5 separate regions of the Homo sapiens genome follow, and regions 2, 3, 4 and 5 are each reported to be linked to region 1. The links are microRNA targets in miRTarBase. Many come from high-throughput screens and were not tested one by one. Region 1 holds a microRNA gene; each other region holds the end of a gene's coding sequence. Distances are between the middles of the regions.
The links. The annotated mature microRNA hsa-miR-6731-5p reads UGGGAGAGCAGGGUAUUGUGGA and lies in region 1 at 3,659-3,680, shown strand. An mRNA with a match to its seed (bases 2 to 7 or 8) in the 3' UTR can be bound and repressed. Matches are read on the target gene's strand: a 7mer-m8 pairs with bases 2 to 8, a 7mer-A1 pairs with bases 2 to 7 and ends in A, and an 8mer does both.

Region 1 (5,100 bases):
AGCCATTATCTCTGCCCTTAATTTATTTAACAAATGTTGTTGAGCACCTACTCTGTGCCGGATGCCGTCCTAGGGGCTGGAGACACTGCATGAACAAGACAAAAACTTGGGCCCCTGGGGAGGTTATAATCTAGTAGAAGGAGACAAAATGAGTAGATGGATTATTAAAAGCATATGCATTGTGAGAAAATTCCAGCAGGTGCAGGGAATAGAGAAAGGGAGTGGTAGGGCCTGTGATACTTCAGGTTGAGCTGCTTAGCGCTTTTTTTTTTTTTTTTTTTTTTTTTGCCCTGTGGGCCCCTCTGATAGCTGGTGAAGCCCGCACACCTTTCTCAGAACAATGATATTTTTAAGGTATAAAATCAAATACAAAGTATTACAATAGAAACCATTTCTATTAAAACATAGCAAAATACTTTAAAAATTGTGGTAAATGTGCTGCTTTATTCAATGTATTAAATAAGATCTAGCATTGGGCCTAATGACAACCATGGTTTTGAAGTTGTGATGAGCATAAAAGATATTTAGAGCAATCTGCAGCAACTGTAATGTGATATGTAAGTATCTGTGACGTCTGTTGGTGACAAGGTCACAGGTACGGCTGATAATACCTCTGTGGTTTGTTGCCTACGCTCGTACTTGAGAGTGATGCTAAATTTCAGTTAGAGGTTAGGGACAATACAATTGTAATTTTTTCCTACCCTAGTTCTCAGGCTCATTCAACTCTACGGAGCCAAGTTAAAAATGCCTTCCAGGTGTAGTGGTTTACGACTGTAATCCCAACACTTTGGGAGGCCAAGGCAGGAGGATCACTTGAGCCCAGGAGTTCAAGACCAGCCTGGGCACATAGTAAAAGCTTGAAAAAAAAAAAAAAGAAAGAAAGGAAAGAAAGAAAAGAAAGGAAAGGAAGGAAGGAAGGGAGGGAAGGAAAAGAAGGAAGGGAAAAAAAGAAATAGCCGGGCATGGTGGCGCTCACCTGTTGTCCCAGCTACTCAGGAGGCTGAGACAGGAGGATCACTTGAGCCCGGGAGGTCCAGGCTGCAGTGAGCTATGATCATGCCACTGCACTCCAACCTGGGTGACAGAGCAAGACCTTGTCTCAAAAAAATTAATTAAAATTAAAAATGCCTACTTCAGATAAAGTGACCAGGGAAGGCCTGACTGAGAAGGTGGGCGACCTGAAGGAGGGTTTTAGTAAGCTTTCAAATGCTGCTGTGGGCCCGGGGCCCTGTGGCAGGGCACTGGGACCCATTAGTCCTCCGTGTCTCCAGTCTGGCCCCTAGGGCTCTGGGCTGTCTGCCTAAACTCCCCGTCATAACCAAGAAGGTGCTGGACAATGCTGGCAGGGTCAGAGGCTCAGGGACCCCAGGAGAGTGCTGGGCTGGTTGGAGGAGAAAGAGGTCCAGCAGAGAAATGACCTCAGAGTGAGGAAAGGCAGTAGGAGGGGTCGGGCAGGGAGCCCGAGGCATCTGCCTGGCACTTCCCTAGACCATCTGCACTTCTGCTTCCAGAAATCATACAAAGTGGCCCCTGTGACCTGAGAGTGGGAGACCAGGTCTGTTCTGACCTGGGGCTCCGGGGGCAAGTGCAGTCAGAATTTCTATCCCTGCCTCAGCCGACTGGCTTAGGAAAAGGCTTCCAGAGAAGCCCCTCATTTCCCAGCTGGAGTGACACTCAGTGGGTCTTGAGCTTTAAATTCCCCCTGGTGTCTCAGAGGGCCTTGGGTCCTGTGGCATGGCTCCTGGCAGCCTGGCTGGTTTAATTTTGTTCCGGATTCTCCTGCCTCTGGGGCTAGAATTTTCACTTGATCAGTTGACTAACAAGTACCCGGCCATGCAAAGAGAACTGTGAGATACTGGTCTCCACCCTGAGCTTCATCTCCCACCTGCAACGTGGGGCTGTTGAAACCTACCTGCTCACTTTGGAGGCGTGTCAGGGGGACACCAGAGGGATGCGCTTGGGCAGCCTCTCTCCTTGACCATCCTGTGCCAGCCCTGGGGTACAGGTGAGAGTGCGAGACCATTGGCCCCTACCCACAGGGAGTTCCCAGGCCTGTACGTGGGATCCAGAGGCAGGGATAGGGGGATAAAGTCTGGCTTGGGGGATCCGCAAATCTCCCCCGCTCCCGGCCACCAATCTCATAAAGCATGAGGCTGTGGATCGTAATAGAGAATAGGGTGAGAGGAGGACTCTTACCCAGACCCCCAAACTCCCAGACACATCAGAGAATTCACTGTAGAAAGTAGAGAGAAGACTGTCGAAAGTAAATCTTCATAAACTGCTTTCTACACGGAGAAACCCGTCTGAACATAAAACGATAGAAGAACGAGAAATAGAAGTGAAAATGAAAAACCACCCAGCGTGTGAAGGCAAAATGTGCAGGCCTGTGCCCGGGGAAACTGATGGCCACAAATACAGCATGGAAAGTATTAACAAGCTTAATATATAGCAATTTTTAAAAGGCACTAAAACCTTCACAGGAAAGTAAAAGAACATGAAGCAGTAATTTGTGTTGGATTATGATGGATAATAATCATATAAAAAGTTTCATTCTCACTAGTAATAGAAAAAAAGGCAAACAAAATCAAGAGCGTGTAAAAGATCTTCCATCTTGATAGACACATCCCTGGGGTGTGACGCAGCCTCACACGCGAGGGTGACGACTAAATCTCTCCGGAGAGTCATCTCACTCCAAGAGGGATCCGCGCCCGTAATATGTCCCAACCCTCTGCTGCCGTGAAATCACTCACCGCTTCTTGGAATCTCTTCTAAGGAAATAAGCAGAGATGCAGACAAAGATTTTTATAAACAGAAGGTCACTTTCATTTTATTTTAAATGGTAAAAAAAAAAAAAAGTAGTATTTTAAAAGTTTTTTCCCCTCTCAGGAATTTTGAATGGAGACTTTGGAGCCAAATGTCTATCTAAAAATAGAACATTCTGGAAATAACAGTTGTGTCTACAGAAGAAATGTCTGCAGCTCCCAAATCAGTCCTTTTTCAGCTCCAGCTGCACACATCAATAAGAAATTAGCAACGATGTAAATACCCGAGAGTAAGGAGGTAGATAAATAAAAGATGAGGAGGCTTCCTTGAGTTGAAATATTTTGCAGCCATTAAAAACGAAGTTTATGGAGTTTTAATGACGTGGGAAAGTGCTTCTGATGTGAGGTTAAATGAAAAAAAAAACAGTATGAAAATCTGTATTTTAGTACCACTGCGACTGTGTAAATATACAAACCCATACAAAAAGAGCTGAAAGGGAAAACACCAAATGGTAACGGTGTCTATCTCCAGCTAGTGGAACCGTGGGGGGGGGGTGTCTTTTCTTCTTTATTTATATTTTGTATGTTCTTGAATTTTTCTACAAAGATCACCAATTACTTTCAGAAAATAGAATATACCCATCCTGCTCCCCACCACAAAATCGTGTGGGTCTCTGAATAGAAGAGACAGCAGAAAGGCCAAGAAGAGGGGAACATGAGCCAGGGTGGTCACGGCATGGGGCGGGGGGTTGACAAAGTTGGCGTCAGACCCCCAGGGGCCTTGAATGCCAAGCCCAAGAGCTTGAACTTCACCCAGAGCCCTATCTTCTGCCCATGTTCAAAGAGGACAGAGTGCCCCTTCTTGACAGTTAGGGGCTTCCAGGGGTAGATACAGGTGGGAGAGCAGGGTATTGTGGAAGCTCCAGGTGCCAACCACCTGCCTCTATTCCCCACTCTCCCCAGGGAAGAGTTTCACCCTGACCATCACTGTGTTCACCAACCCCACCCAAGTGGCGACCTACCACCGAGCCATCAAGGTGACCGTGGACGGACCCCGGGAGCCCAGACGTAAGTGCCACCGAGCCCCCTGAGCCCCTGCGCGGGGGAGGAGGGTCCAGTGCGGGAAGGACAGCAGCTAGGTCAGACAGATGGAGCCCTCCTCGGGGGGTTGCAGTCCTTGGCTCTGTGCCCCCACACACTGCGTGCCTGCTGGCAAACCCCTAAACCCTCTGGGCTTAGCCTGAGACCGTGGGAGGCCAGCGAGGAGGCTGGGAGTGGAGATGACTGTCCATGGAGACTACTGAGGGAGTCAAGGAAAGGAAAAGGATGGAGAAAGCTTTCAGATATGGCATTTGTCGGGTGCTTGTGTGTTTCTGGGTGGAGGTTGAGCCAGGCTTGCTTTACTCTGCCCCCAGCTTCTCTGCGGGTGGCTGAGGGATGCATGGAGGGCAGGAGTGATCAAAAGTCAGGGGCTGGTCTGGCTGTGAGGCCAGGCCTCTTCCTTGGAAACTGAGTCTTTGAATCTTAGCATGTGACTTGCTCAGGTCACCCAGAGTCCGGGCACCCAGACCCTATGAGCAGGGAGTTCTGGTCCATCAAAGCGAGTTTGTGTTTAATTCTCTCTGCTTGCTGAAGGTCAGATTAAGGCTGGGGAAGTGGGAGGGTAGGCTGAGGCTCTGTGTCCACAGAATGAATGAATGACTGACTGACTGACTGACTGAATGAATGAATGAATGAATGAAATAGAGCCAGCCAGCTTCCTGAGCTCCATCCCACCTCCCCAAGGCATTTTCAGCTTGGTGCACTGAAGGTTGGCCCACCCCTCTCTTTCTCAGAAATGTGACCCTTTGTAGTTTAGAAGACCTTTTAGCAGTCACTATTGAATGGGATCTTGATGACAGCAGAGCCAGAGGGGTCACCCAAGTTCCAGTGAGGAGAGAATCCAGGCCTGAGGGAGTTGGGTACCTGAATAGGACCTAATGCTGTGCAAGGAGCAGGAAGGCGCCCCAGGCTTCAGTCTTCCCAGAGGCAAGATTCTAGGCTGAGCAGGCCTGGGGCAGGAGGCCTGGGGCAGGAGGCCTAGCCCTGGGCTGGCCCCTCCCTTCTTGGGAGTCAGCTGGGCCTGACACCCCATCATCCAATTCCTGGGCCCATCCCAGCATCTGGCCACTTGGGAAAGGCTTGGAGCTGAGTCCAGCAGCCCTGGAAGAGTTTCCCTCCAGGGCTCTCAGGGTCACCTCTGCCAGCCCTGAGCCCCGGCACGCATCCTCAGGCCTGCACCGTCAGCTCCCAGCCAGCACTTGCCCTGGCCACACTCCTGCTGGTTCCCTCCTGCTGA
Region 2 (5,100 bases), not on the chromosome of region 1:
AAAGACAACCTGGCAAAACAGCAGCAGCAACAACAGAACGATGTGGTGAAGCTCACGAAGAACAGTAAACGAAAGAAACGCTGCTGCTAATGGCACCCAGTCCACTGCAGAGACTGCACTGCGGTCCCTCCCCCAGCCCGAGGCCCACGGAGGTTCCTCGGGGGACAGTCTCAGTTTCGTGCCGTTATTTAAAGAATTCTCTCCATGTTTTTGTATCGGGAGGTGCCATCGGCACTTCCTCCCCCGCCCTCCTCGAGTGCCAAGAAGGTGTTGGACCAGCCCGCCCTTCCCTACTGGTGCCCCCTCCTCCCCGGCCAAGGCGCCTGGACCTGGCGAGGACGCTGCCCGCCGAGCGGACTGATTCGCAGAGTCTGTACATAGTGTATATTGCTCTACCCGGCCGCACACCACGTCCTGCTCTGGCTTTTGCCTTCTTGATGCCAGCCTGCTGCAACAGACCCTCCCCGCGCCCCTCCCCAGCCCATCTTACTGCAAGCAGCGTCCTGAGGAGACAGCGGCACGTTCTAGCTGCGTCTGCGGCCAGCCCGTGCCAGTGGAGTGGGCTCCGCGTTGCTCATTCTCTCCGACAGGTTGTCAGCCTCTGTCCCCGCTGCACAGGGTCTTGCCCCTTCTCCGGGGCCTGTGCCAGCTCCCTTCCCTCCCCGTTGTCCTGTCCCCACAGCCATTCTGGGAGCTGGGGAACCTGGTCTCAAGGCAGGCCCTGCAGTTCCACAGAGGTGGCAGGTCTTGCCCTTTGGCCAACAGATTTCTTGTCCTGCCTTCTAGATGCCTCTGAGCTCCAAACCCAGGGCAGCCATGGCTTCTCATTTACACCAACAGGTTTCAGTTCCAACAGAAAGGTCGGGGTAGGTTCGTGCAGAGATGGGGCTGGCAGGGGGGCTATGGGAGGATTATTTTAACAGATCAAGAAAATGAAGCCAAATCAAGTGAATTAAATTCCTCACAATTATTTTCTTTCCCTGAGGTTTGATTGGCACAGCAGCAAAAGTTGAGGCCACCCCACTTGTGTCCACTGTTTTTAGAAAAAAATGAATGGCTTCCTGCCATTGTGGGGCTGGACTCTTGGGCTTTCTTGGTGGGAGCGGAGAAGGGGCCTCCCACCCTTGTCCGAGTTGCCTCCCACTGGAGGTCAGGAGTCTACACTGCAGCCTCGGGCACTGTGGGGAGTGCATGCCTGGGGCCTCTGGGTGGGGACCATGGACAGGCCCTGGTCACTGTCCTAACCTTTGTCAGGACAAAGGTAGCAAGAGGATTTCCTGGCGGGTGGGAAGGAATGGCTGGGGCGGCCAGTTTTGACACGCCCCAGTGCCCTGGAGAACAACCAGGGTCATCTGCACTTGATGACTGCTCCCCGACCCCCAGCCCGGACACCTCATTCCCCTCCCACTACAGGGATCAAGTGACCTGGGAAGAACCGAGTTTAACACCAGGATGTGTTTCCTTAGATTTCCTTTCCTAGGCGATTTCCAGGGAGAGCCCTGATTGGACAATCACATCACAGATCACACTGCAGTTTCCATGTTAGCACTGTGGATGGGTTTTTAATCAATAAAAACTGGGGGTTTCTTCTCACCGACTCTCCACTTGCCCAAACTGCCAAAAGCTGGTGATTCTGGGACAGGCCTTCACTTTGGAGCCACGGGATGGGGTGGGGGAGCCCCATGGGCCTGGGAAGGAGGGTGCTGTGGAGGGGGCTGCAGGGCTGACCAGCAGGCAGCCTCATCTGGTCGGGGGCGGGGGCGGCAGGAGCAGAAGCGGGGTCTCCGTCCTTGGGACTGTCCTGGTTGGCCACGGGCCCTGAGGATGCACGGTGCCTGGGGCTCCTGTGCCGGTGGGCGGGGGGCATGCTGGCCTCTGAGCGATCAGGCGAGGCCAGCGAGGGTGTGCTTGCAAATTCAAGCAATAAGAGGGGGGTTCCTGGGGGCTTCCAGCCCAGGCTAGAAGCCCCCATGGCTTCTGGCAGCTGGACATCAGCCCCAGGTATTGGGGTGATTTTGGTCATGACAGTGTGCCTGTCCCACTGTTACACGCATGAATGGGGGTTATGGGGTGGGGGTGGGGACTCAGGGCTGGACCGACGTCCTAGTGGACCTGATGTGAAATTCCTGTCAAACAAACACCACTTTTCAATGGTTTGCTAGGAGTATTTCTGTATTGAAAGTTTCTAATTATGCTTTTTAAAAAAATACTAAAAATAAAGGTTCAAGCTGCCAAATTTTCTTCCAGGGTCTGTTTGCTCTCCCTCCAGAGATGTGCTGAGTGGCCGTGGCTTCTTCCCACCCACCGTGTCCTGCTCTTCCCTGTTCTTGGCCTAAGTCTTGCACAGGAGCCTGTCGAGGCCCTTGGGACACTTCCAGAAGCCAGGTCCATTTTCTCCATGAACAGGTGGGCCAGGGTTGAGTCTCCCCCTAGTTGGACTGGGAGCACATGTGGTAAGATGCCAGGGGAAGCTCCGTGTTTATCCTCCACATGCCTGGAAGGATGCAGTGGAAGCCTTTGCCTGGCGTGGTTTCTTTCTGGCTTGAAGTTTCTGCCAAGCTTTAGGGCCCTGCTGGCCTGGGAAGCAGCGTTGGCAGGCCTGCCTTGCGGATGGCACGCTGCAGCACTGGCAGGGGGCAGTGCCAGGCGGGAGGGGCAGGGGAGGATGCCCTTCCTGGCCAAATCCCTTGGTTAAGTAAGTACCAGCATCTGAGGTGGCCCGGGTGCAGGGGAACCACTATTGCTACCTCTCCAGCAGCAGCCAGTGGTGAGTCTGACATGTCAGCTGCATTCAGACCAAACCCGCCCCCCGCAAATACCCAGAGACTGAGGCAGGAAGCTCTGTAGAAATTCATTTTATTCTTATTCAGACTATTTTCAAAAGAAGCAGTGGTGTGCTGTTTTTCTAAAAATATGCCTTTATAGATTTTTATATATGTATATTATAAAATCCATACATGTATTTACATGATTGCTACATACAAAATTACAGCACTGTGGTATGTACACATCTACAGGTACATTCTTGCCGCGCATCCCTGCTGTGCTTTCCCCACGTGAGGGAGGGAGGGAGACTGAATCGGTTGTGAGCAGCTGAGGGCTGGCCGGGCCGCGGAGCCTCTGAGTTGGGGCCTGGGTGGAGGAGGAGGGGCGGCTGCAGAGGCAGGAGCAGCAGCCACTGCAGGCTTCTGCAGGCAGGCAGGCAGCATCTGGAGGCTTCCGGCAGCCTCCCCCTCCCCTCCACCCCGTGGTGCCTGTGCTGCCCTCAAGGTGGGGTGGCTGACCACAGACCCCTCTGGTGCCATTCAGTGGCCTGGACTTGTTTGGCTAGGCCAAGAAATTATGTATGTATGTGAGGGGTGGAGGAGGGAGCTGTGGGAGGAGGAGACCCCGTCCAACCCCAGCCCTGAGCAGGGGAAAGGGCTGGATGGCTAAAGCCTGCAGATGACTGGTGATAACACTCTGCCTGGCCAGGCCCTGCTAAGGGGCAGAGACTGAAGGCTGGGAGGGAGAGCAGTGGCGACAGGGGGACAGGGCCTTCTTCCTCCCTGGGGCTCGGGTGGCCTCAGCTGAGCTTGGGTAAGCCCCGGCTCTTAGACCCTGCGGCCAGAGGCTTGGCCTCCTGCCAGCTGAGGTGCATGCATGCGGGGGAGGGGCTGCCATCTCTCCTTTGACCCTGGGCCAGGGGCTGGGGAAGGAATGGAGGCTCAGGCCTGGCCCGCTGCCCCCACAGGTCTAGGCCCCTGGGGCTCAGGCCTCCTGAGGCATGCAGAGAAGGGCCTCCATTCCTTCTGTTCCCCATTTGCTAAAATCAAGGAGGCAGCAGTGCCTGGGGGTGGGCTGCGATCTGTTGGGTGTGAGCTGCAAAGCCCAACACCAAGGGGCCCCTCTGGGAGGTGGCCTAACCCTGCTCAAGCACGTGGTCCTGGAGAAGCCCAGGCGTGGGCTTGGCCAGGCGGTGGGCCAAGGGAAGCCTTCAGTGGCCAAGGCAGGCCCCCACCTCTAGGTCTCCATCCCCACCGACGAAAGGGAGCAGGCCCTCCCGGACCCATGGGGCCCTAGCATGAGGGGCAGGGCAGCTGCTGAGGTGCAAGCTGCAGGGGAGGCCTTGCCTGCACCGCCTTTCCAGCTGCCTCCAGTCCACCCATCTTTGGTGGCCTGACTCCTCCCAACTTAAATTTTCCTGAAGAATGAGAAGAGTCGTTTGCCTTCAGCGATGCTGGGCTCATCCCCCCGCCCAGCGCTGTGGCCCCTGCAGAGGGCAGCAGCCGGCTGGCTCCGTTCTTTCAGGTGCGTGTCCATCAGCTGCCGGTCAATGACCCTGTGCATGTCATCCTGCAGAGGGGAGGGGACAGTGGCCAGGACTGAGTAGCTGCTCTCACCTAACCCTGGGGCTGGACAGGGAGGTGGGAACATCAGACAGATGAGAGATGAGAATGTGATGAGTGAGAGGCTGCAGCCGGGACTGCCCTGACCAAGAAAGCGGTGAGCGTGGGCAAGACACCAGGCGCACGCAGGAGCCGTATGGCACCTCCAGCCTCCTCAGGCTTGGGCTGGGTTCTCCTCAACAGTGTTACTCCTGCTGGGCCGCCACAGTCCTCAGCTGATGGCTCGGGTGGTCTCTCCCTGCAGTCTCCACACTAGCACTCCACCTGCTCTGACCAGGCCTCACGGCTCTGCCTCCTGTGTCCTGTGGGCCTGGCTGGTGCCTCCGGTTTGGCTTGCCACCCCCAGCCCCGGCAGGCCCTAGGGCCACCTCAGCTTAACAGCTCCCCAGCCCAATGGCCTGGCCTCAGGGGCTCCTCCTGCCTTTTCCTTTCCAATTATTCCAGCCTGAGCTACTGATGCCCAGGCACCAACGGCAGCCTCACGTGGCAAGGATGCCCTGGGTGCTGCCCTAGACCCTGCTGCTGAGGCTCCCATCTGCGGCAGAGGCCAGGGGCCTCACGGTCTTCAGGGGCTGTCCTGCACCAAATCAGGCCCATTTCTTTCAGCTTCCTCACTGGGGTAGGACCGTCCCCCAACTCGAATTCGTTCATGTGGTCCAGAAAATGCCTTCCTCCCCACAGCCCGCCCCACCATGTTTTACAGAACAGCAGC
Region 3 (5,100 bases), not on the chromosome of region 1:
CATGCGTTGTTGGGGGCAGTGGGATCACCTGGGGCCCCCTCCCTGTGAGCAGCCCAGCCTCAGGGCCCTGTTTGTGCTCCATGTGCTGGTGGCACCGTCTCTGAGCACTGGTGTCCCCTCTGTCACATTGGTCAACGGTAGCCCCTGCAGCATCCGTTTGCTGCGAGGCTGTGGGGATGGTCCCCGCGGCACCTTCCAGGAGGGTGGCGCCATCGGGCCATCCAGCCCACACAGGTGCTCACTGACTGCTCCCCATCCCCTGCACCAGGCACTATGACATGCGGAGGAACGACGACATTATAAACTTCTTCAATGACTTCAGTGACCACCTGGCTGAGGAGGCCCTATGGGAACTGTCTCTGAAAATTAAACCCAGGAACATAACAAGGAGAAAAACAGACCGGGAAGAGAAGACCTAGGAGCAGACGCCGGGATCCAGGAGAATGCTCGAGGGGCGCAGAGGGCAGCTCCCAGACCGGAGAGGACCTTGGACCTGTTAGGCGCATGGCAGGAGTCCCGGCCTCGGAGCCATGAGGCTGGCCAGCCCTCAGCGGGGCCGGGCGGGAGCTGGAGCCTGCCAGCCGCTTCCTGCCTCCTTCCTCTGTGGGAGCAGACCCGTGGGCCTCAGGGCAGCCAGCAGGCAGGTCTTGTTGCCAATTTACAAACCGGTGGTTTTCTGGTTTGGTTTTGTTTTCTGCTTTTACTTCCATCTCTCCCCTCTTGACCTTCCACCCACTCCCCTCCAGGGAGAGAGCAGCAGAGACCTCATCAGCAGACCAAGGAAGTGGTGGGTGCTCCCCCTCCCTAAGCTCCAGGGTCCCTGAATCTTCTGAAATCTCAAATGAGTGGAGGCCTCCTGGGGTGGCCTGTCCTGCAGGGGCCCTGGAATGGGGGCAAGCAGCTGGGTGGGCAGAATGCAGAGTAGACTCGGGGGAGGATCCTTTCACTTTCCGCTTCCCCTTCTGATGCATGGAGGATGGTGTGAGCTTTTCAGCAGGCCCGGAAAGGTACGCAGGTGACGCCTTAGCAGCCCCGCAGCTGGTGCTCTGCCCCGCGGTACTGGCGCCATCAGGGCCTCCCTTGCCCGCCTGAGAGCAGCAGCAGTCTCTGTCATCCCGTCGCCCCTTACCCCCCACCCCAGGCCACTGGGCCCCTCCCACACCACCTGGGGAGCTGAGAAGAGGAGGCTGGAGTAAGGGAGGACTTGATCATCCAAGAAATACTTTTTATTGCTGGGAGTCTTCTGAACCTCACCAAACTGAGGCCAGAGCTGAGCTCCTGGGGGAGTTAATTCAGAGGGGAGAGGCCAGCACCTCCCTCCTCCATCGCTCGCTGTGTGCCTTAAACTCCATCTCATGTCCCTCCCCATCCCCTGGCTTTCCCTCCCTCCTTGCCCCATCCTGGGCCAGCCAGCAGGGCTCCTCCTCTGGCTCTTCAGACCTTTCAGCCAGTGCTGTCAGTGCCCCTGGGAGGGAAGGGCATCCCTGAGGCACCCGAATGGTCCCTCAGGGTGCAGGGAGGCAGAAGCCTGGCCACAGAGGAGCCTCCTAAGGCAGCAGCTGCAGCAAGCGCACCCTCTCCCCACTCTCCCCACGCCAGAGCGGCTTCCAGAGCAGATGCTGTTTCCATCCTCCTCGTCAAAACCATTCTCGCTGCTGAGCTTGACAATCTGGGCAAGGCTTGTGGGGCGCTTGACAAACAGAATCTGCCCTGTGCCGCCTGGTTCCGTGGCCTCCAGCATGAGCCTGCAGGCAGGGCGCTGCGGGAACCCAGTTGTGCTGCCCCAGCCCATGCCTCCGGGTCTGCTGTGCATGAATGAGTGCTCACTTGTCCCGGGTTTAGGACGTGGTCAAGTGAACAGCAGGGTCTAACTGTGCTTACTTAGCCCAGTTCAAACAGAACAAAGGAAAAATATAGAAAGCAACATCTGTTGATCATTTAGGTTTTTTTTTAAACCACCATGTCACTTTGAGTCCTTCATGGGTTTTTGAACAGCATTTATCAAGAAGAAAATGTGGGCTTTTTCCCCTCTCCCGTGTTTTGTTTGTCCTGTAGATAGAGGGAGGAAAGCCGTGCAGTGGCAGGCGGGACCCCCTCTGGTGGCGGGACCCCCTCTTGCGGTGGTCTTGCGGGGCCAGCCGGGACCTGTCACTTTATTATTTAAGGAGTGTGTGTGTAGAGTCGCTGGCTTATTAACAGTATTGTGTGTGGGTTGGGTTTTTAGTTTGTTCCTTCTTTTTGAAGTCCCTTCATTTCAATCCTTGACTCTCTCTCCCCTTCCCTTGCCCAGCTCTGTTGAATGCTGCTGTGCGCGTGTGAGGGCCGCTCTGCACACAGGGCCCTTGGGTTGTGTGAACTGAAATTCTCCCTGTATTTGTGAGACTCGCAGGAGTCCCCATCTGTAGCACAGGCAATGCCAGTGCCATGCTGCAGCCTCAGAAACCAGGCCTCTCACTCCAGCAGCAGGCAGAACCGTGTCTGTGGTCGGGTGCTGTCCACAGCTCTGTCTGCCTTGTTCTTGGGCTTGAGCTGGATAGAGGTGGGGTCTCTTCACCTTCCCTGAATTCAGAACAGACCCTGTGCCTGGCCCCAGTGTGCCCAGGCAATTCCCCAGGCCCTCACTGGGAGCCCTTGGTGTTCTGAGCAGCAGGGCCCAGGCAGCACATGAGCAGTGCCCAGGGGCTCCCTGCGTGAGGACGGCAAGGTGCGATGTATGTCTAACTTATTGATGGCAGGCAGCCCCCTGTGCCCCCTAAGCCTGGCCCTGGTTATTGCTGAGCTCTGTGCTCAGTGCTGCGGCCTGGCCGTGGCTCGTCTGTTCCTTTGGGGGGCCCGGGCGGGTTGTGGGAATCAGTCTTCACAGACAGACGTGAGCCAGGCGGAGGACTCGTTCCTTGCAGAGGTCAGTCCTCACCTGCAGGTGTCGGGGTGTGGGGGGGCAAGGAGGGGCAGGCACACACCATGTCTGACCTGAACCCGATTCTGGGGAGCATCTTCCCGCTCCGGCCCCACGACCTCCACAGGGTTACATTGTAATATATATGCCCCAGCTAACCTGTCTGATGGTGGCATCTTCCTGCAGACATTTCAAACATGTAACTTTTATATGAAAAAAAATAAACACAGATGAAAGCTGCCCAATGCCATGTCCGCGCCCAGCTGCATGTGTGCAACTACAGTGACAGCCCAGCCTGCTCCATGCTGGCCTTGCCATCTCTTTTCTGAGACCCCTGTCGCAGGCGGGGCTCCTGGGAGGCTGGGGTCATTCAGCTCCACTCCCAGGCCCACTTGCTGCCATTGGGGTAGTCGTGGCTGAGTGAAATGGACGTCACCAGAACTTTCCCTCCTAGGCCTTGTGCCCTAGAAGCATTCAACTGGACAAAGAATTGCTCGTGCTCCAGAGGTCGGTTCATGCACAAGAGCCCCTCACCCCAGTGTCCTGATGAAAAGGGCATTCCTCGGGTGGGATTCGGGGGCACAGGCTCTAGAATTGCTCCTTCGGGGCCCGGAAGCACTGTCTTTATGGCGTGCCTTTTGCGGTGTGTCCTCTGCCGCCCAGGAGGCAGCACACAGAGGCTCGGGCCCAGCCCCAGTGAAGAACAGCAGAGCCTCTGCACTTACAAGGGACAGAGTGAGGAGGCCCCAGGGATTCCAGTCCCTTCTCTGCCCCGAGGTGTGCTGTGTCCCCTCCATGCGGAGTAAGGCACGGGGCCCAATGGCTCTGGGAGGCCATTTGTCTCCCTGTCTTCCTTGTCCTCCCACACCACAGCCCACCTGTGCCCCATTGTTTCCATCCTAGCACCTGAGACCAAGCACCCCAGCATAGCCACCCAGGGATGGCGGGGATCAGGGCCAGCCCTCATATTCACCCTGGTTCCCAGTCCCCAACTTTCAGCCCCACGGCGGCCCCTGGGGAAGCCCAGGATCTCTGCATCTCTCTGTACCTGATCGTGCAGAGGTCAGGCCTGGTGAGGAGGAGGCATCTCCCCTCATGCCCCGCAAAGGCAGCAGCTTAAGTCTGTCCCTTTAAAGGGAAGGGGCCAAGTATTCCTGGGCTGATCACAAGATCTGATAGAAGGGACCCTGCATCAGGCAGGCATCAACCATCCAGAGCTGTTGGCTGCCTGTGTGTCAGGCGCCAACGCCAAAGCCTCCATGAACCTCGTAGGTGATGGAAGCCCAGGTTCTCTCTTTTGTTCCTTGTGTCCTCGGGCAGATTGCTCAGCCACTCATGCCTCAGGCTCCTCATTATCTGCTTTTGTCCATTTCGACCAATGAGCACACAGAAGCCCGAGAGAGACCAGTCCACTCCTGAGTCCTCCACTCGCATCTCCCTCCCCTGCCAGCAATGCCAGGAAGCTGGTCTGGCCCCAACAACCCCAGTGAGCAGGAGGTGATGTGCCAGGTATGGACCTCAGGCCTCAGCCTTCCCACCAGGGCTGCGGGGCAGCAGCTGCTGCGACCCACCCTGGTCTTTGGTGACCGGCAGACCGCGAGATTCACCAAGGGAGCCGCCATAGTCACGGAGGAAACACCTTGGCTTCCACCCCACCCCCACAGTGTCCCCGCCCAGGACCTGCGAGTGTGCATGCTTAGCCAGTAACCCAGGAGGCTCAGATGCCTGCTCCAACCAAGAACTGCGGTCCCCCCGAAGGTGTCTGAGCTGAGGGCCCCAAGCCTCCCACCTGCTCTGACCTTGCAGTAGGTCGACAATCTGGGTCCCGCCCCCAGTGGTGCAAGGCTGGAGAATGGGGTATGATGGCTGACTGCTCATTGTTCCCCCTGTGGGATGGGAGGCAGGCCCCAGCATTCATTCAAACCTTTTTTTTCATTCATTCACTAGGGGTGCATTATTTAGGAAGCAGTCAAGGTGTGGTTCGGGCCATCTGAGTCCCTCATTGGCTGCCAGCAGTCTGGGGGAATATGTCCTTGGCTGCAAAGGGCTGTGTCCTGACTCTGCAGCTGATAAGCAAAAGGACCCTGGGTAAGTGGTTTTCTTCTCTGCTTGGCAGTTTCCCCAGCTGGAAGTGGGGTAATAACAGACTCTGCTTTCTAAGGTCTCACAAAGTTTCAATGAGTTAATACTTGGATATAATAATA
Region 4 (5,100 bases), 15 Mb from region 1:
TTTTAATGGTGTGCTAGAGCTGCTTTTTGAGACAATCTGTCTTAAATTACATTTGCCTATTTTTAGCTCATATTGTAAATTGAGAGGAAGAAACATCCTTAGCTTAGCCTGACTTAAAGCCAGATAACAACCCTGAAGATTCTAAGGGCAGGGCTGCCTTTGCAAGTGGGGATTCACATTTTCAAAGAATTCCCAGAAGTCCTAAGACAAAGAATTCCAGCCTGCCGTCCTCGCCACGGAGCCTGTGGGGCCTGCTGCTGGGTCTGTCCCAGGCTTTCTTCTCTGTTCCCTCCCCCCAGCAGTAGCTGACAAAGAAGCGCCTTCCCCTTACAAAAGGCAATGTATATGCCTTTATTGAAGGCTGATTTCCTTCTAAACCTGGGGGCCTCACAGGGGCCCTTTGATTGCTGTTCCTTTGGATAGATTTTTCGCTGGTAGAACGGGCTTTGTTTTCTTTTTCAGTCGTGGGCTCTCAGTAGATTAGAGTTTGCTTTGCTTTGTCCCCGCAGACCCTCTGATGGACACCCTCATGACAGACCCCGTGCGGCTGCCCTCTGGCACCATCATGGACCGCTCCATCATCCTGCGGCACCTGCTCAACTCCCCCACGGACCCCTTCAACCGGCAGACGCTGACAGAGAGCATGCTGGAACCAGGTAGAGGAGGGTGCAGTTTGAGGTGCAGCGCTGGCGTCAGTACCAAGAGATAAAGCCCAAGTCACATATTGGAGATGAAGCAGAAGGGAAATTTATCAAATGCAGAAACTACCTACTTTATGACACTCTGTAGCAAAGACCCAAAACACTCTTGGCCCTTTTTCCCTGCAGACATCCAGTCCCTCCCTCTCATGTCCCAGTCCTTCTGGAGTCTTCGGCTCAATGAGGGAAAGAATGGCCTTTTCTTCCCATTTATACAGAGCGACAAGCATCCTCTCTCAGGAAGAGCCCTCCCATCTGGGGCATTAATCCTCCTTTTTTTCTTTTCTCAGTGCCAGAACTGAAAGAGCAGATTCAGGCGTGGATGAGAGAGAAACAGAACAGCGATCACTAAACCGTTCCGCCGCCCACCCTCTGCTAGACACAGCCAAGGCCAACGAGGCAAGCAGAAGCAGCGGCCGCAGCGAAGCTGCCGTTCATGTGTTGGAGGCCAAATGTGGCAAACCAACCCCAGGCCCACCCAGAGCGAGCAAACGCTGAGACCTGAAAGGACATGGATGAGAAGAGGAGCCCGCTTCCTGTACATATATTTAAGTGACAAACACGGTCAAAAGCTTAAGGGACAGGTTTTATGGTTGCTTGTGTAATAAAGCATGTCCTTCGTATGTCACAGTTTGGGGCAACGGAAGTCTTTTAGTGATGGCTAATGGGTCTGGGCAGCATCCCTTCATGAATTTTTTTTTAATCCAATATCCGTTGATTTGATTGTGATTAGAGAACCTTGGACATTTTGCTGCTAAAGAATCTTTTTTCCCCTCTCCCCCTTCCTGACCCTACTTGCACTGCTGTGGATTTTTTTAAGAGAAGCAAAAACAAAAGTAAACTCCTTTCCCTGGCCCTCCAAACATATATTCTGTGAGATAACTGTGCCTGCTACCAAGTGTTAATCCTGGGATCGTATTTTTATATCATATTCACATATTTGTTTTTTTAATTGGTGTTAGATGACATGATTAATAAAAAAGGCAAGATATTTTCAGAATTTGAATTTCAGTTTTTTTTTTCTTTTGAAATGTCCCTTTAAGATTTTTTTATTCTAAACAAAATAAAGAAAATCCTGCTGCTCTGGTCCTTGTGATAAGCCTCTCTTCGGCATCTGAGGAGCAGCTGCAGCAAAATCTAGGGGTGTAAGTGTATCAGGACTTATGTGACTTATATTTTGGGGAGATGAGGGTTGGGTTTTTTTTTTAATGCTACGTGACAGTTTGAAACCTTCACAGTTATCCTCTGGGGGTAAATCAATTCTTCAACCCTTGGGTGTGTGAGTTTGAGGCAGGGTCATTTGTGTGATGTGTTTGGCCTTACCAAAGCAAAAGAGGGTGCAAGAATGTGGGAGTATGTCTGCCGGTTTCAACACACACAGACAAACACAGCCACACGCGCACACAAGTATAAGACTTTTTGTATTACTGCTCCCTACTTAACATACTTGAATTCTCAAATTTCCTTTGGGGTAAAAAAAAAAAAAGGATTTGAAACCATAAAGTGTTCTGAAGAAATTAAGTCTATAAAAAGCATACTTTCTTTTTTCTTTTCCTTTTTTCCCTCCACAGACAATGTCCTCTGTTCAATTCCTAACGCAAACTACAATAAATGGTGACACACGTTCAGAAGAAATCTTCTTTGAGTCTCTTCTCTTTTGTGGAAAAAAAAAAAGGGCAGGGCGGGTGGGTAAACAAGAGCCAAGTGAGTTTGCATGTGGTGAATGATCTTTCCTGGATCCAATTAGGAGCTGCTATTTTTAAAAGAAAACTTTCTTATTCATGTCAGTCTCGACATTTGGTTCTCATTTCACTGTTTGCTGATTTGAGGGGGTAAGCTTTGTCATATTCAGTCTTCTGCCTTTCTTGAGTTTCTTCTGCTTTATCTCAAGTATCTTCCCTGACCTTCAAGATTCTTCCTCAGGCCGGGCCCGGTGGCTCACGCCTGTAATCCCAGCACTTTGGGAGGCTGAGGCGGATGGATCACCTGACGTCAGGAATTCGAGACCAGCCTGGCCAGCATGGTGAAACCCCATCTCTACTAAAAATACAAAAAATTAGCCGGGCGTAGTGGCAGCGCCTGTAGTCCCAGCTACTCGGGAGGCTGAGACAGGAGAATTGCTTGAACCTGGGAGGTGGAGGTTGCAGTGAGCCGAGATGACGTCATCACACTCCAGCCTGGGTGACAGCGAGACTCCGTCTCAAAAAAGAAAAAATATATATTTATATATATTTACATATATATTTATTTATATATATTTATATATATATATATAACATGGCCAGGTGCGGTGGCTCACGCCTGTAATCCCAGCACTTTGGGAGGCCAAGGCAGGTGTATCGTCTGAGGTCAGGAGTTCTAGACCAGCCTGGCCAACATGGTGAAACCCCATCTCAACTGAAAATACAAAAATTAGCTGGGCGTGGTGGTGGGTGCCTATAATCCCAGCTACTCGGGGGGCCGAGGCAGGAGAATTGCTTGAACCCAGGAGGTGGAGGTTGCAGTGAGCTGAGATCGCGCCATCGCACTCCAGCCTAGGGGACAAGAGTGAGACTTCGTCTCAAAAAATAGATAGATAGATAGACACAATAAATAAGGAAAAAGTTCATGATAGCAAAAATTTTAGGCAATATAAGCAAAAAGAAAAAAAATCCATATTCTCACCATGCAGAAGATTCTGTTTAATTGGGTTTACTTTTTACTAAACTTACATATCTAAGCTTAGTGCCTGTAGAATTAGGATACTGACTGGCATCTTGCCTAATTTTGTTTGTGTGGTTATCTGACCAGTGTGTACTGCTTGTCTCCTCTCCATCCCAGATTCCAAACTCTTATTTTAATCCTCCAGTTGTCCCCGTGAATGTAATAAAATGCTGCTTTATACCGCCATATGCACTTGTCGTTTTGAATAATTCAGAGGTTTCAAGGACCTGCCGGATAGGACAGAGACACAGTCAGTCTCCTGCCTGTACTATCTATAGGGGGAAGATGATTTGGGTTTCCATTTTTAGAGTCTCAAGAGTTGCTGTTTTGTGTTTGTCTGCAGTCTCTTAATTGTGGATATTGAAATAAATCCCAAAATATATTAAAAGTAGGTCTTGGCTAAAAGGAAGATTGTCAAATAAGAGAATCAGATTGGCAGAAGAGAAATGATCCTTGAGAGAAAGATGATTAAAATCTGCCTTGTGTTGTGACTCAGTGTTGTGTAGATTTTAAAAAGATATTGATTGAATATCTTTTGAAAAAAAAGCTGAGCACACCGTTCACTTTTTGTAACCTCTGGGTTTGGTACATCGAGTAGTGAATTTCACAGCAATTTGATTGGAGTGCTAAAGTGACATGAATAGGCCTCATTTGAGTAGGTACTTTTTTTTGTTTTTTGGTTTTTTTCAGACGGAGTCTCGCTCCGTCACCCAGGCTGGAGTGCAGTGGCGCAATTTTGGCTCATTGCAACCTCCACCTTCCAGGTTCAAGTGATTCTCCTGCCTTAGCCTCCCGAGTAGCTGGGACTAGAGCACATGCCACCATGTCCAGCTAATTTTTTTTTTTTTTTTTTTTTTTTTTTAGTAGAGATGGGGTTTCACCATGTTGGCCAGGCTGGTCTTGAACTCCAGACCTCAAGTGATCCACCTGCCTCAGCCTCCCGAAGTGCTGGGATTACAGGCATGAGCCACCACACCAGGCCTCAAGGTACGTTTTTGATTGAAGGAGACACAGTAGCCTATGAGCTTGATGCTGGTGTCAGATAGTGTTGGTGAAGAAAGTCATTCTGAATTGGTGATGATCATTTGCATTTCATGAGCATATTCTATGTGCAAGCCACTCTTACATGTATTAATTTTTTTTTTTTTTTTGAGACAGAGTCTCGCTCTGTCGCCCAGGCTGGAGTGCAGTGGCGCGATCTCGGCTCACTGCAAGCTCCGCCTCCCAAGTTCACGCCATTCTCCTGCCTCAGCCTCCCGAGTAGCTGGGACTACAGGTGTCCGCCACCATGCCCAGCTAATTTTTTGTATTTTTAGTAGAGACAGGGTTTCACCGTGTTAGCCAGGGTGGTCTCGATCTCCTGACCTCGTGATCCACCTGCCTTGGCCTCCCAAAGTGCTGGGATTACAGACAAGAGCCACCGCACCCGGCCACATATATTAATTAATTTAACCCTCCACAACCATAATGTAGTGGAACTGGCACATGAATCTAGGCCATCTGGCCTTTCCAGCCTCATCTCTTCCCGACTCCTGCTGTATGGCAGAGTTCCAGAATGCTAGAAGTTCAGAATAGCTCAGAATGCCCAAGGAGAAGCAGCATAGCATTTTGGAAGGGACTTTGGCCTTGAGATCAGCTCTAGACCTAACCCCCATTTTAAACAATTAGATAACTTCAATATCACAGCTTTCATTCGTTA
Region 5 (5,100 bases), not on the chromosome of region 1:
ACTAAAACAATGAACCTGGTGCATATAATCTACTTTTCTGATTATTGATTTTGGTGACCCCATGTCCTCCTCTAGCTCATAGTTCCATCATAAGCATTATATTTTATATCATTTATTAGAGTATTTATTTTTAAAGCATAAAAATCTGTTTTAATTACTTAAATGTCTCTATGGATAGTTTTAATATTTATATTTGTAATGAATAGAATTACATCTTGATTATGTCTTTGGAAACGTATTTGTAGAGCTTAAAACACAGCTGAAATCATGTGGCTTTCCAATAGACTCCTTTGAAAAAGTGCTTTACTTTGCAGAATTATAAGCCAGAAAGTACTATGACATTAAGTTATTGCAAAGCATTGTGATTTATCCAGTAAAATACATGGCTATGGACCTTGTAAGCTTCTTATATTTAGCTACGTCCCCCTTACCCTCACAGAAAAGTAATCTCTGCATTATTAATGTACCTCAAGATTACTAAATGATCTACACAGTAGCCAGCCAATCTGTGGTGGCCCCCAATTTTATGCTATCTGTACTGGCACTGATTTCAGGCAATCACCCTTCCACCATTGCCCCCTCCTCTCCATGCTTGGAAAGATGCTTGCTCCCTCTTCTGGCCTTGTTTTGCTAGGAAAGGTTTTGGTAGTAGAGCACATATTCTTTGTCATGCCACATTTTGAGCTGACCTTCCTGCCAGACATGTCTAAAATCATAGTCTTAGCAACACTTAACCCCAATTCATGTGGTCATCAGATTGGACTGGCCGTGGTAGAATGTGGCCCAAATAAATCCTGGTGGGACTGGACTTACTGAGAACTTCTCCCACTCTAATACTGGACAAAATAATTGTATGCTCCCCAGTATCTCTTCATGCAGGAATGGAAGGCCTGTGTAGACAAATGACTGTCCCATCCAATTTTAGCCAAATGTGATTATCATATGCCAAACACTGACAAGAACAATTTATCTTGAATTGAACAGTTTATCTTGGGCCTACTGCTTCATCATTAACTAGGAGTTAATCTGCTTTGTGATGACAGAAGTCTCTAAAATCCCCTTTTCAAGCACTATGGAATACTGATCTTACCTGGCTCATTTGCAGAGATCTCACACTTCACCAAACCAATTATGACCACACGAAACCTCCGAACCTAGTTGCCACTATTCTAGCCTAGTTGCCACTTTCCAGTTTTCTAAATCAAGCAAAGTTCTCAAATACCCGAGTGTCTCACTGGGATGTTCTATTGGATTTGCAATTGTGTTCAATTTGATTATTTGGAGTCAGTAGGTCACTTGAATACCGTCAACTATCCTATTAAAAGATGCTTGTTGCCACACTTTTTCCCCTTCTGCTTTTGTTTGGCAACTTAATGGTTCTCAACCTTGCTCCTGGTTGTTTATGGGGGTGTTTTATTTGCTGCCATCCCTCCCCCTTTTTCACTAGACTCTTGAATGATTTGGGAGTGCTAAGGTACCCAGTGCACTATTACTAAGCTCCCAATAAATATTTGCTAAGGATGATGATATTTACATTTTTAATGTCCTCAGAGTCTAGACTTTTGACTTGGACAATATTTTGAATTTTAGGGTTTAGATTAGGTTAGGTGTCTTAATGGGGTTCTTGTTCAGATTTCTTCATATTCCAAGTGTAGCAGAAAATATAGGTTACTATTTTCTTAAGCAACCACTAATGCTGAAAGAAAACGTCAGTACATGCATGCGTTTCACTGCAAATCCATCATTTAACATCAGCAACCCCCATTTTGAGGACTGATAGCTGATTTGAAGGAGCCCTTGAGAATTTGATTGCATAGCCCTTTCTAGGGCACCAGGTAAATCCTCCTAAACACAGCAGCTCCTGTTCTGTCCCTCTCCTGAATGGAAGCAGACTATCTGATTCCCATCCAGCCATTCTCAGGGAGTTCATTTTTCGGAGACTCAAATGAGTGGTGAAATAGGTAATCCCAGAGCATTTGGGGGAACAATTTGTGGGGGGGAGGAATATGAGTTTTCTTTCTTTAGAATGGAATTTCATCAGTGCCAGGCTAGCCCAGACCACAGGAAGTTTATGAAAGCCTTTGTGATGGCTGGCAGGCTGGGTGAGAGTCAAAGTGGAGGTCCACACTTGAGCAGCAGGACTCTGGCTGAGAAGGTGAGTCAGCTTCTAAGGCCTTTTGGACTTGACTAGCAAGGAAAGCTGAGAGTAGGGACTATCTCCACAGCTGTCAGTGTGTCTCATGATGACATCCCCAGAACTGTGTTCCTGAAGGTGATGCTATAAATGTCAGAGTCTAAAAGATCTTGCAACCATTTTATAAATCCACACAGGCATCTCAACCCTTAGAACTGAAGTCACTTGTTAATATGTAAATGGTGGCTTCTCAGTCTATCCCCAAATAAAAATAGATCTTATAAATGTTACCAAACAAACATTTAAAATAATCATAAAATAGTTTACATATTCATTATTTGGCTCAGAGTTCTGATGGTGAAGCAAAGTGCAGCTCTTTCCCTCCCTCGCATTCTAACTGGAACATGGTCCTTATCAGAGCGTCGACACCGCAGGAGCACTGAGGCTGACATAAAACCTGTCTGACACATTTTCTGATAAGGCAGGAATGTACTTTTCAGATCTCTTGAACATGGCCTTTCTCATCTGTCACCACTGTATTTCTTCACTTTGCTGGCCTGGGGAAAAATACTATATTCTAGGACTTTTTTCTTACAGGTTCATATCTCGTTGGCTGTTGGTTCAATGTCTTCCTCACCCAATGAGAAGGCCAAAACACTGATGAAAGGCCTTGCTCACTCAGTGCTCTCAGAAGGCAGAACTCATCAGCTGACTTGCCAGTCACCCTCGCCACAGACACTGGCTTAAAAGGTACAGAACAAGATTTCAAAACTGTTTGTAAGGCTTATTGGCGGGGAGGGAGGGAGGGAGAGGGAGGAGAGAGATAGAGAGACAGAGAGAGAGAGGAATATATATCTGTTGCAGGGCATCAGCTCCCAATTTCTCATTGGAGGAGGTAACTTCATCTCAGCCCCCACTAAGCCCAGAACCAGCCTTGGTTGTGACGCCTACCCAGAGGTACTATCAGCCCTTAGAGAAATTTCTGCAATGACTGAGCTTCTGGGCAGAATTCAGCCAGGCTTGAACCTGAGAAGAGATGCCCTGTGAAGTCCTTTTTTGGGCAGCACCAAAAATCTGCCAGCAGGTATATTAGTTCTCCTTTCTCTCGCCAGCTGGAAAGGAAAGAACCATTGAAAGTTATAAATAATTGAAAAGAAAATCAGATTGGTTTATTGCTTCTGCTTGTATACAGAGTTGAAGAGCAAGTTTGAGTGAGTGCCTGGAGTGGGCGGTGGATGAGGGGAATTATGGAAGGGAGAGGGGTTCCTCAAGTCTGTTATTTTTTAAGAGATGGGGTCTCGCTGTGTTGCCCAGGCTGGTCTTGAACTCCTGGGCTCAAGCAATCCACCCATCTCAGCCTCCCAAAGTGTTGGGATTACAGATGTGAGGCACCGCACCTGGCCTCAAATCTGTTCTTGAGCAGTAGAGAGGAAAGGAGAAAGGAAGGGACCCACTGGCTAAAATAAAATACATTTTTAAGAAGGGCAACTCTCAGTGAGTGGTTGTGATGGCCGCCCTGCTAGGGCTCTTCCCTCGCCTCCTGGAGCTCCTCCCTTCATCCTCTCCTGTATTGCTGGGCCCAGCCTAGTGTGGAAGAAGAGTAAAGCTGAGCTAGAATATTTTCTGCTGGTGCCCCACCAATTTAAACACATTAAATTTGGAGTGTAGTTCTGCCTTTGTATGAGGCTTTTATCTATGGTGACATCCTGTTCTTGGACTCTGATACTGTAAAGAAAGCAGATGCCTTCACTTCACAATTGCATACCTAAATGAAGATTTAGTACATTTCATTATGGTAATCCTCAGCCCAGCCTCCACCCTGCGTAGCTACTGGATTTATAAATTACAGTCCAGTACAGTGGCAGTTGGAGTCCCAAATTACTAAAAGCCAGAGCCAGGAAATCTTCTTGGATTGTGCCAGTCTCAGAGTTTGCTCTTGATTCTGATTTTCTATGCTGGTATATGGAAATCATCTTGGACAGGTCTCCAGGGATTCCAGGGAAAGAGCATGGGTAAGAGTGGCTAAGCTCACCCACTTGGATATCTAAGTGCACGTTAGTTTGCATTTCCAAATCCGCTTCTAATTTGGATAGTACATTTTACAAAGCTTATTAGAAAACTGGTCTAAAAGAACACGTTTGAAAGAGCATTAAAAAGCATAAAGAGGAGGCCTTCTAACCCCAATAGCAACATTTTGAGGTTTGACACAGCAAGAGATTTTTCTTTCTTTCAAAGAACATTACTTCTTTCTTTCAAAGGACAGCCAGCTCTCAAGAGTAATAGATAATAGCAATAGGGGAGCAATCTGACTCACATACAAGCTCCAAAGTTCATTGGAGGCAAGCATTCCATCCTCTCCCCTTACCTAACCTTCTCTCACTTGCTCACATAGACTTAACTAAATTTCATCTCTCGTTTTTCCCTTGACCACTCTTCTAGCAAATGGACTAATTAATAAGTGGTCAAAAGGCTGAAGAAAGAGAAGTCAGAGGCCACAATAGGCCCAAACTTGATAACGTGTGCCTGGAATATGGCAAGCTGGCCCTGTAATAACTTCCAGATGAATCACGGTTTTTTTCAGACACCAGCAGGTGAACCGAAATCATTCTATTTGCCTCCCACTTCTTCCATCCAGAATTACTGATCTCCGCTGAGGCTGGTAAAAACAGCTGGTTGAGGTCTCTAGTCTCTGGCCATTCTTAGGGATGGTCATTTTATTCCTAAGTGTAACCCCTTCTGGTGTGACCCATGTGTTTTCTGCCAACTCTCCACAAAGAAGGCCAGGGGAAACTGTCTGGGTGGGACTTCTGATAGGGGACAGCAGGACCTTGGAATCTGTCACTGTGGATGAAGGGGGCAGGTGGTCCATAATGGGGAAAGGAGGACTGAATAAGATTAGGCTCTGAGGTCTTCCTGGCCTTGACCTGTGGAAAGGCTTAGAACCCCCAGATGGTCGCTCTAGTTTT

Region 2: miRTarBase lists BICDL1 as a target of hsa-miR-6731-5p. Seed matches in the 3' UTR shown: 7mer-m8 at 3,508-3,514.
Region 3: the mRNA of RAPGEF1 is a reported target of hsa-miR-6731-5p. Seed matches in the 3' UTR shown: 7mer-m8 at 711-717, 7mer-m8 at 1,576-1,582, 7mer-m8 at 1,585-1,591, 7mer-m8 at 2,029-2,035 and 7mer-m8 at 2,270-2,276.
Region 4: miRTarBase lists UBE4B as a target of hsa-miR-6731-5p. Seed matches in the 3' UTR shown: 7mer-m8 at 1,472-1,478.
Region 5: the mRNA of ARHGAP31 is a reported target of hsa-miR-6731-5p. Seed matches in the 3' UTR shown: 7mer-m8 at 3,388-3,394 and 7mer-m8 at 2,940-2,946.

The regions. Positions count from the first base shown.
Region 1 is chr1:24,917,970-24,923,069 of GRCh38, reverse strand. It overlaps MIR6731 (microRNA 6731), which reads left to right and starts at 3,654; the gene lies at 3,654-3,725. It overlaps RUNX3 (RUNX family transcription factor 3), which reads left to right. Exons shown (of 5, transcript NM_004350.3): 3 at 3,726-3,830.
Region 2 is chr12:120,092,235-120,097,334 of GRCh38, reverse strand. BICDL1 (BICD family like cargo adaptor 1) reads right to left here. Exons shown (of 10, transcript NM_001367886.1): 10 at 2,841-4,335. The coding sequence ends at 4,174. RAB35 (RAB35, member RAS oncogene family) reads left to right here. Exons shown (of 6, transcript NM_006861.7): 6 at 1-2,236. The coding sequence ends at 90. Among named protein-coding and RNA genes, the nearest start is that of RAB35, 22 kb to the left of the region's middle. RefSeq lists enhancers at 3,251-3,894, 3,895-4,538.
Region 3 is chr9:131,574,816-131,579,915 of GRCh38, reverse strand. It overlaps RAPGEF1 (Rap guanine nucleotide exchange factor 1), which reads left to right. Exons shown (of 27, transcript NM_001377935.1): 27 at 269-3,141. The coding sequence ends at 419. Among named protein-coding and RNA genes, the nearest start is that of PRRT1B, 32 kb to the right of the region's middle. RefSeq lists enhancers at 488-567, 768-897, 928-977.
Region 4 is chr1:10,178,907-10,184,006 of GRCh38, forward strand. It overlaps UBE4B (ubiquitination factor E4B), which reads left to right. Exons shown (of 28, transcript NM_001105562.3): 27 at 510-656; 28 at 989-2,333. The coding sequence ends at 1,050. Among named protein-coding and RNA genes, the nearest start is that of KIF1B, 29 kb to the right of the region's middle.
Region 5 is chr3:119,415,901-119,421,000 of GRCh38, reverse strand. ARHGAP31 (Rho GTPase activating protein 31) reads right to left here. Exons shown (of 12, transcript NM_020754.4): 12 at 287-5,100. The coding sequence ends at 4,737. Among named protein-coding and RNA genes, the nearest start is that of TMEM39A, 45 kb to the left of the region's middle.